2 linked regions of the Homo sapiens genome follow. The protein of the gene in region 2 purifies or fractionates together with the protein of the main gene of each other region. This does not show direct contact. Each region holds a gene or a part of one and is shown on either strand. Other genes may lie near its edges.

Region 1 (3,500 bases), on a different chromosome or scaffold from region 2:
TCCACATTAAATAGTAATGAAAGCTACTGCTGATCTCGGCCACCAACATCTGTCTTTAAAAAGATGCTGTATCTATAAGTTCTCTTAAGTAAATACAACTGCTCTTCTGGCTGAAAAACCTTATTGTAGGCTAGAAATGAAATTCATGGGACAGGGCTGGCAGTAACAGATGTTGGATTTGTCATTTTCAATGCTCTTTTTTTCCCCTTTACAGTTTTCATATCCTAGGGAAGGCAGGCCCTTCCATGCAGCAAGACTTCTATACTGTGGAGGACCTTGCTACCCAGCTTCTCAGCTCAGCCTTTGTCAACTTGAACAATATTCCTGACTACCGACTCAGACCCATGCTTCATATCCTTTCAAAAGTCTCTACATAACCCAAAAGGTCAGAAAATTAGAGAGAGAAACAAAACAGGTCACAGCAACCAGAGGGAAGAGGCAGAACTGGAAGGAAGAGATGAGATTATGTATCTAAGTGTATCATGTCATTAAAAACACTGGCAGATTGCAGGGAAAACATGAAGGCAGTCCAGATGGCCATAAACTTTTCCTTAGGGGTAAATTTTTACCTTCCCCCTTCTCGGAATTATTACAGATAAAACTTTTTTTTTTTTTTGAGACAGTCTTGCTCACTCTGTTGCACAGGCTGGAGTGCAGTGGTATGATCTCGGCTCACAGCTTCTGCCTCTCAGGTTCAAGCTATTCTTGTGCCTCAGCCTCCTAACTAGCTGTGATTACAGGTGTGCACCATCACGCCCAGCTGATTTTTATTCCTATTTTTTGAGACAGAGTTTTGCTCTATTGCCCAGGCTGGAGTGCAGTGGCATGATCTTGTCTTACTGCAACTTCCACCTCCTGGGTTCAAGTGATTCATGTGCCTCAGCCTCCCAAGTAGCTGGGATTACAGGCGCATGCTACTACGCCCAGCTAATTTTTTTGTATTTTTAGTAGAGACAGGTTTTCGCCATGTTGGCCAGGCTGGTCTCAAACTCCTGACCTCAAGTAATCCGCCTGCCTCAGCCTCCCAAAGTGCTGGGGTTACAGGTGTGAGCCACCATGCCCAGCTGTGAAAGATAAAACTTTTATCCCTTTTCTGTATTTTTAGAAGCACTTTTTTTTTTTTTTTTTTGAGACAGGGTCTCAGTGTTACCCAGGCAGGAATGCAGTGGTGCCATCAAAGCTCAGTGCAGGCTCAAGTGATCCTCCCACCTCAGCTTCCTGAAGAGCCTGGACTGGACCACAGATGCGCACCACCACACCCAGCTAGTTTTTATTATTATTTGTAGAGATGGGTCTGTATTATGTTCCCCAGGGTGGTCTCAAACTCCTGGCTCAAGTAATTCTCCTGCCTCAGCCTCCAAAGTGCTAGAATTACAGGCCTGAGCCACCACACCCAGCCAGAAGCAGCAGTTTTAACACTTCATTCTCATTCAGACCCTTATTAATAGTTGAATCTCTTTCTTTCTTTTCTTTTTTTTTTTTTTTGAGACGGAGTCTTGCTCTGTTGCCCAGGCTGGAGTGCAGTGGCGTGATCTCGGCTCACTGCAAGCTTCGCCTCCCAGGTTCACACCATTCTCTTGCCTTAGCTTCTCGAGTAGCTGGGACTACAGGCGCTCGCCCCCATGCCCGACTAATTTTTTTTTTTTTTTTTTTTTTTTTTAGTAGAGACGGGGTTTCACCATGTTAGCCAGGATGGTCTCGCTCTCTTGACCCCGTGATCCACTCGCCTTGGCCTCCCAAAGTGCTGGGATTACAGGTGTGAGCCACCGCAGCCAGCAAATCTTTCTTACCTGAAATTATAAGGAGAATGGTGAAGGAGAGTTTGTTACAAGGATGTCCTCCTTCCTATTTTTTTATTCCTACTTTTTGGGCCAGTGACCATAATGTGCAGCCTGACGGAAATGCAGCTAAACTAAGAGTATAATGGAATTCAATATCAGTGCCATTTAGGATTTTAGGAAAAGAACTTTAAGATTTTTTCACTGTTAACACAGGATATTTTTGACATCTGGCAAATCCTTTAGGGATTGATTCTGCCCAGGGGTGCAACCCACCACCTGGCAGGTGAGAGATGTGTGCCTATGCACTAAAATTTCTTAACTTGTTGCAGCACGTGTCTTTGTAAAGCCTCTGGTGCTCTTCTGTCCCCCAGAGCACTATGAAGCCCTGGTATCCCCCATCCTCGGACCTCTTTTCACCTACCTCCATATGGTAAGAGATAAGTCAGGAACAGGAAGCAAAGAGTACTATTAAGGCCTCTGGCCATTTCTGAGCTTTGCAAGTCAGGAGCTCCTAGAAGTGTTGTCTACTAGCCCTGCCAGACTGGCTGGGCAGAGCTTCTACCCCAGCTGACTATCCTTGCTGTAGGATCGAGCAGCCCCCAAAGAACTAAACTGATTTAATTGCCACAAGACAGCTTCAGTTGCAGATTCTGCTCCTAACCTCCTGTTAACTGAGGAGAGGTAAAAAGAGGAATGCTTGCTCACAGACCCTTGCCAGGAATGCTGGGTCTGTTATCCTTACTCTAGAATTAAGCAGGGGGACCAGCTGGGTGGAGAACAGGTATGTCTAGAGACCCAGGAATTCTAAAAATGTTGTTAATTCTTTCCAAGCAAAGAGGTGTTTGAGATACCACCTTCATCAGGGATGTGGGATAGGTTACAGAAACCATAGATGTTTTTTTTAACCTTGTGGTGTGGAGTCTACAGAAGTTGTCATTGATGCCTAGAATCATCCTTGGCTAATTTTAATCATGAAGTGGACTTGACTTTAGATATTATGTGTTCCAATCCTTTCCCCAATTCTAGCATTTATTTCCTTTGTGTTTTCCCAGAGGCTTTCTCAGAAATGGCAAGTTATCAACCAAAGGAGCCTGCTGTGGTAAGGGATACCTACCCACTCTTCTTGGTGGATGAACTGGCAGCCAGGTTTGGGGTGGGAAAAGGAAGCGGGCAGGGATTCTGCTGTCCCAGGGTAGAAGAGCAGTAGGTTGTAGTCATTCTCAGCCTAGGTGATACATGGCTTGTCTGGACAGGCTGTTACCAGCAGGCAGACTCTGAGATCCAGCCTTCATAGGGGCTACTGTTACCTTACTCACTTATTTTAATTCTGTAATGTCTATCCAACTGGACAGAGTCACTAGTAATAATGTCCTTCAGTGGATCACTGCTGTCCATTCCCAACTTTTGCATAAAACGAAGACCCAAAGGAGAAGAAAGTGGTCAGAGAGAGTCTGATTAGGGTCGCTGCTTTCCTTGTCCTTCCTTTTCTGCACTCCTGTGGAACTTGGCCCCCTGGTTTTCTGCAGTGGAGAAGATGAGGCTGCAGATGAAAACCCAGAGTCTCAAGAGATGCTGGAGGAGCAACTGGTGAGGATGTTAACCCGAGAAGTCATGGACCTAATCAGTAAGTGGCATGTCGAAACTGGGGCTATAGAGGATTTTCCTGGAAGAAGAGCTGGTCGCTCAGCCAACTCCATGAAGGCCTGACTAATGCAAAGG
Region 2 (3,784 bases):
ATCTTAATGCTGGTTTTCCAGCCTCTAGTGCGTCTCTGGTGATGTTCAAAATATAATTATTTTTAATTAACTCATTAAAAAAGAGATCTTTGCTATAGGCACTCGGGAGGCTAGGGAAAGGGGAGGGAGATTAGTCGAGAGAATTAGAGATTTCTGACATCAAAGAGGCTGTGTGACTCCTGAAACCAGATCTGTGTTCTAATCCTCCACGTTTCTAACATCCACCACAGCCACAAGGCAGGCACGTACTGTTACTGAAAATTAGCTTACAAAATGCCTTTCCTATGCCATAACTTCTCCTGTGCATCTTTGCTTTTCTTTGAACTTGGCATTTCCAGCACATCCATATCGCACAAAATGTCAGCTGCAGGTCAGCAGACGTTACGATGGGGACAAAGCGGATGGAAAAAAGAAGCTTAACTGCTTCTCTGCGGCCTAAAATCCCATCATTACGGGGATCATTCTGAATGGAGGGAGCCCAGCGGGTCAGAACCACCCCGGCTGTGGGCCTGCTCCCGCCAAAGTCAGGAGGGGGGTGTTCATTTCTCCAGGGAGCTAGGGCAGCGTTCTCGCTGGGAGATGGTGCTGGCCTAGAAGAGCACAGGGGAACATCACACACCTGGGACAGTTGTGGGGTGGGGAGAGGGGGGAGGGATAGCATTAGGAGATATACCTAATGCTAAATGACGAGTTAATGGGTGCAGCACACCAACATGGCACATGTATACATATGTAACAAACCTGCACGTTGTGCACATGTACCCTAAAACGTGAAGTATAATAATAATAAAATTAAAAAAAAAAAAAAAGAGCACAGAGAGACAGGGCAGAGCGAGGCGGCGGCGCCCAGCTAGATAGAGCGCGCCTCCTGGCTCGGGCCCGGCCCTCACCTTTGTACTGCAGCGAGTCCTCCGTGTAGGCCAGCATGCTGGGGAAGGTGCTGCTGAGAAACAGGCCCAGGCTTGCCGTCCCCACGAACAGGAAGACGACGTTGTAGGAGAAAATAAGCAGCACCAGGAACGTCACCACCACGCCAACCTGTCGCGGCAGAGGTGGAGGCGGTTAGGAATTGCGAAAAGCTGAGCATCGGTGGTGAGGAACCGCCAGGAGTCGGCGTCTCCTGGCTTGGCGTTTCCTCTCTAGCCCAAGGAGCCCAGCTGTGTGACCCGCGCGCCACCCCGTGGACCAGGCGGGAACCGCAGTGTTCCGGGGACCGTTCTGACATCTGGAAGGAAGCGTGGAAAGGAGACCCCCGCCTAGACATCTTCCCACCTAGACATCTCCCCTAACAGCTACGGTACACGCTGCGTAAGCATTTGGGGACTGAGGACTACCTGTCCCCAAGGTCTTATCTGTAACCGCGGGAACTCCACCCAAGCCAATTTCATCAGCTCTCTCTGCCCTGCCAGCCCTGGGGGTAGGAGAGTCTCTGTTTCTTTGTGAGAAGCTGCTTCTCTTCTCCTGAAAGCCAAGAGTGCACAGACAGGAAGCCATCAGATAGCAGGGGAAGAGGGGTGGTGGCAGCAGGGTCCCATCCTCTGGGAATCCTAGCCAGCCACCCAGGGAGAGGGTCAGTGGCTGTGGCAGTCAGCTTGGCACCCTCAGATTTGGCTCAGATTCCCATGGGCAGATGCTAACCTATGGTTGGAGACCCAGAAATCTTTCTTTTCTTTCCTTTTTTTTTTTTTTTTTTTGAGAGACAGGGTCTCACTCTGTTGCCCAAATTGGAGTGCAGTGGTGCAATCTCAGCTCACTGCAGCCTCGACCTACAGGGCTCAAGCGTTCCTCCCACCTCAGCCTCCTGAGTAGCTGGGACCTCAGGCATGTGCCACCACGCCTGCTAATTTTCTGTATTTTTAGTCGAGAAAGGGTTCGCCATGTTGCCCAGGCTGGTCTTGAACTTCTGGGCTCAAGCAATCCATCTGCCTCAGCTTCCCAAACTGTTGGGATTACAGGCATGAGCCCCCACGCCCAGCCAAATCTTTCTAGTTCAGTAAAGGTCTCTGTCATACAGGCATGTTTTTGTTAATATAACCATATTTCTAAGTTCTTTAAACACGTTTTTATGTCTGCATTGAGTCACTTCTGTGCAAGATGTATCTGGGAATAAACCCAGGCAGCACAAGATTTGGGGTCAGAAGACCCAGGTGGAAGTCCCGATGTGTTTTTTACCAGCTGTGGAACCCAGAAGTAGCTGATTGCTCTGATTCTTAACTTCCTAATCTGCAAAATAGGAATAGTTACAAAAGCCACACTAAAGAGTGGTGGTGAAATAATACAGATGAAGGGGCTCTGTAAACTGTGGTGCTTCAGACAAATATGAGTCCTAGTGTTTCTCTGTGGGCTTTTCTTAGACGTCTCAGGAGATAAGGATCTTCTATAGCAGCCTATGGCTTTGAGGTAAAAATCTCCTGGATGAAGACATCTGTTTCTTTAAAAAGTAAGTACAGACTATAGAGCTAGGCAAGAAATCTCATCCAGCTCCCAACCCCTCCACTTCTGGGCATGCAGAAAGGAAAGACTTTCAGGGTTGGGAGCCGATCCTGGGAGAGTTGCTCCAATTGGAAAATCAAAGCCGGTGCTCCTAATCCTTGAGGCCTTTACGCTCCTCTAGCAGCCCTTCCGTCTCTGCCACAGGATCTGTTAGGTGGAAGGTGGTCTCGAGGCTCAGAGGCCTTACCCAGACAGACTTCCTTCCCTGGGGAGGGATCAGCCACAAAACAGTGGCCGAAGGAGAGAAACACATTCCCTTCAGAATGGAAATGGAAAGACAAAAGACTTCTTTCATGCAGTAAAAATATGAAAGTCATAGCATAACTATGGTTCCAAAGGTCATGTCTTTCTTTGGCACAGAACATGGTCCCTGAGATCCATTTGTTCTTGCTTTCCCCTCTGTTCACTCTCTCAATGTTGGGGTGGCCCAGGATTCTCTTCTGGCTCTTCCATGTCCGCAGTGCCCTGCTCCACGTTTCACCTGCCTCTACAGCAGGCATGCTTGTATCTATCCCTCTAGCCATGAGCTGTGTCCAGGACTCCGGACTTGCACCTAAAGCTGCCCCTTGGATATAGTCAGTCCCTGGATGACTAACCATGTGGCCCAAACTAGACTCTTAATTTCCTCTGCCAATCCTACTCCTGCACACATCAAGTGAGGGCATCCCAGTCATGCAGTTGCTCAAGTCCTGTGTCTAAGGTCCTTGATTCCTCCTTTCCTTACCTCCCACACCTGGGTCAGCAACAAGTCCTGTCCACACCATCTCAAAAAACATGTTCGATCCTTGTACTGCTCCAGATCCATCCAGACCACCCCATCCCAGCCACCTCCCTCTTGCGCCTGGACTACAATAACAGACAGTCTGTGTTTGACTCTTGCCAGCTACAGTCTGTTCTTCCACACTGGAGTGCACTTTTAAAATGCAGTGCAAGTGGCTGGAGATGGTGGCTCCTGTCTAGTTCTACCACTTTGGTAGGCTGAGGCAGGAAGGATCGCTTGGGCCCAGGAGTTCAAGACCAGCCTGGGCAACATAGTGAGACCCTGTCTCTCTAAAAAAAACAATAATAAATTTTAAAAATGCAATGCAAGCTATGTTAGATGGAAATGTGAAACATCACGGGGCACCTGTATAAGTGTCGTTTACTTCATAGCATGAATAAATGTATCTGTGAGATGCAAAAAAATAAAAAGAAAAAAGAAAATGCAACGCAGACCTGCTTAAAACCTATTGGCTTCCTGCCCACTTAGAATAAAATTCAAAGCCCACCTTACAAAACCCTGAGGATGTAG

What was found.
Region 1: the proteins of SLC60A1 (region 2) and XPO5 purify together in Homo sapiens (affinity purification with mass spectrometry; 2 studies listed by BioGRID and IntAct, with this or other methods). This does not show direct contact.

What each region holds. Positions count from the first base shown.
Region 1 is NC_000006.12:43,527,539-43,531,038, reverse strand, and holds part of XPO5 (exportin-5), read left to right. Parts: intron 1-214; coding exon 215-351; intron 352-1,662; exon of another isoform or gene 1,663-1,683; coding exon of another isoform or gene 1,684-1,790; intron 1,791-2,113; coding exon 2,114-2,211; intron 2,212-2,833; coding exon 2,834-2,880; intron 2,881-3,307; coding exon 3,308-3,405; intron 3,406-3,500. UniProt on the Homo sapiens protein: Mediates the nuclear export of proteins bearing a double-stranded RNA binding domain (dsRBD) and double-stranded RNAs (cargos). XPO5 in the nucleus binds cooperatively to the RNA and to the GTPase Ran in its active GTP-bound form.
Region 2 is NC_000001.11:205,589,394-205,593,177, reverse strand, and holds part of SLC60A1 (major facilitator superfamily domain-containing protein 4A), read right to left. Parts: intron 1,309-3,784; exon of another isoform or gene 1,039-1,308; coding exon 891-1,038; intron 1-890.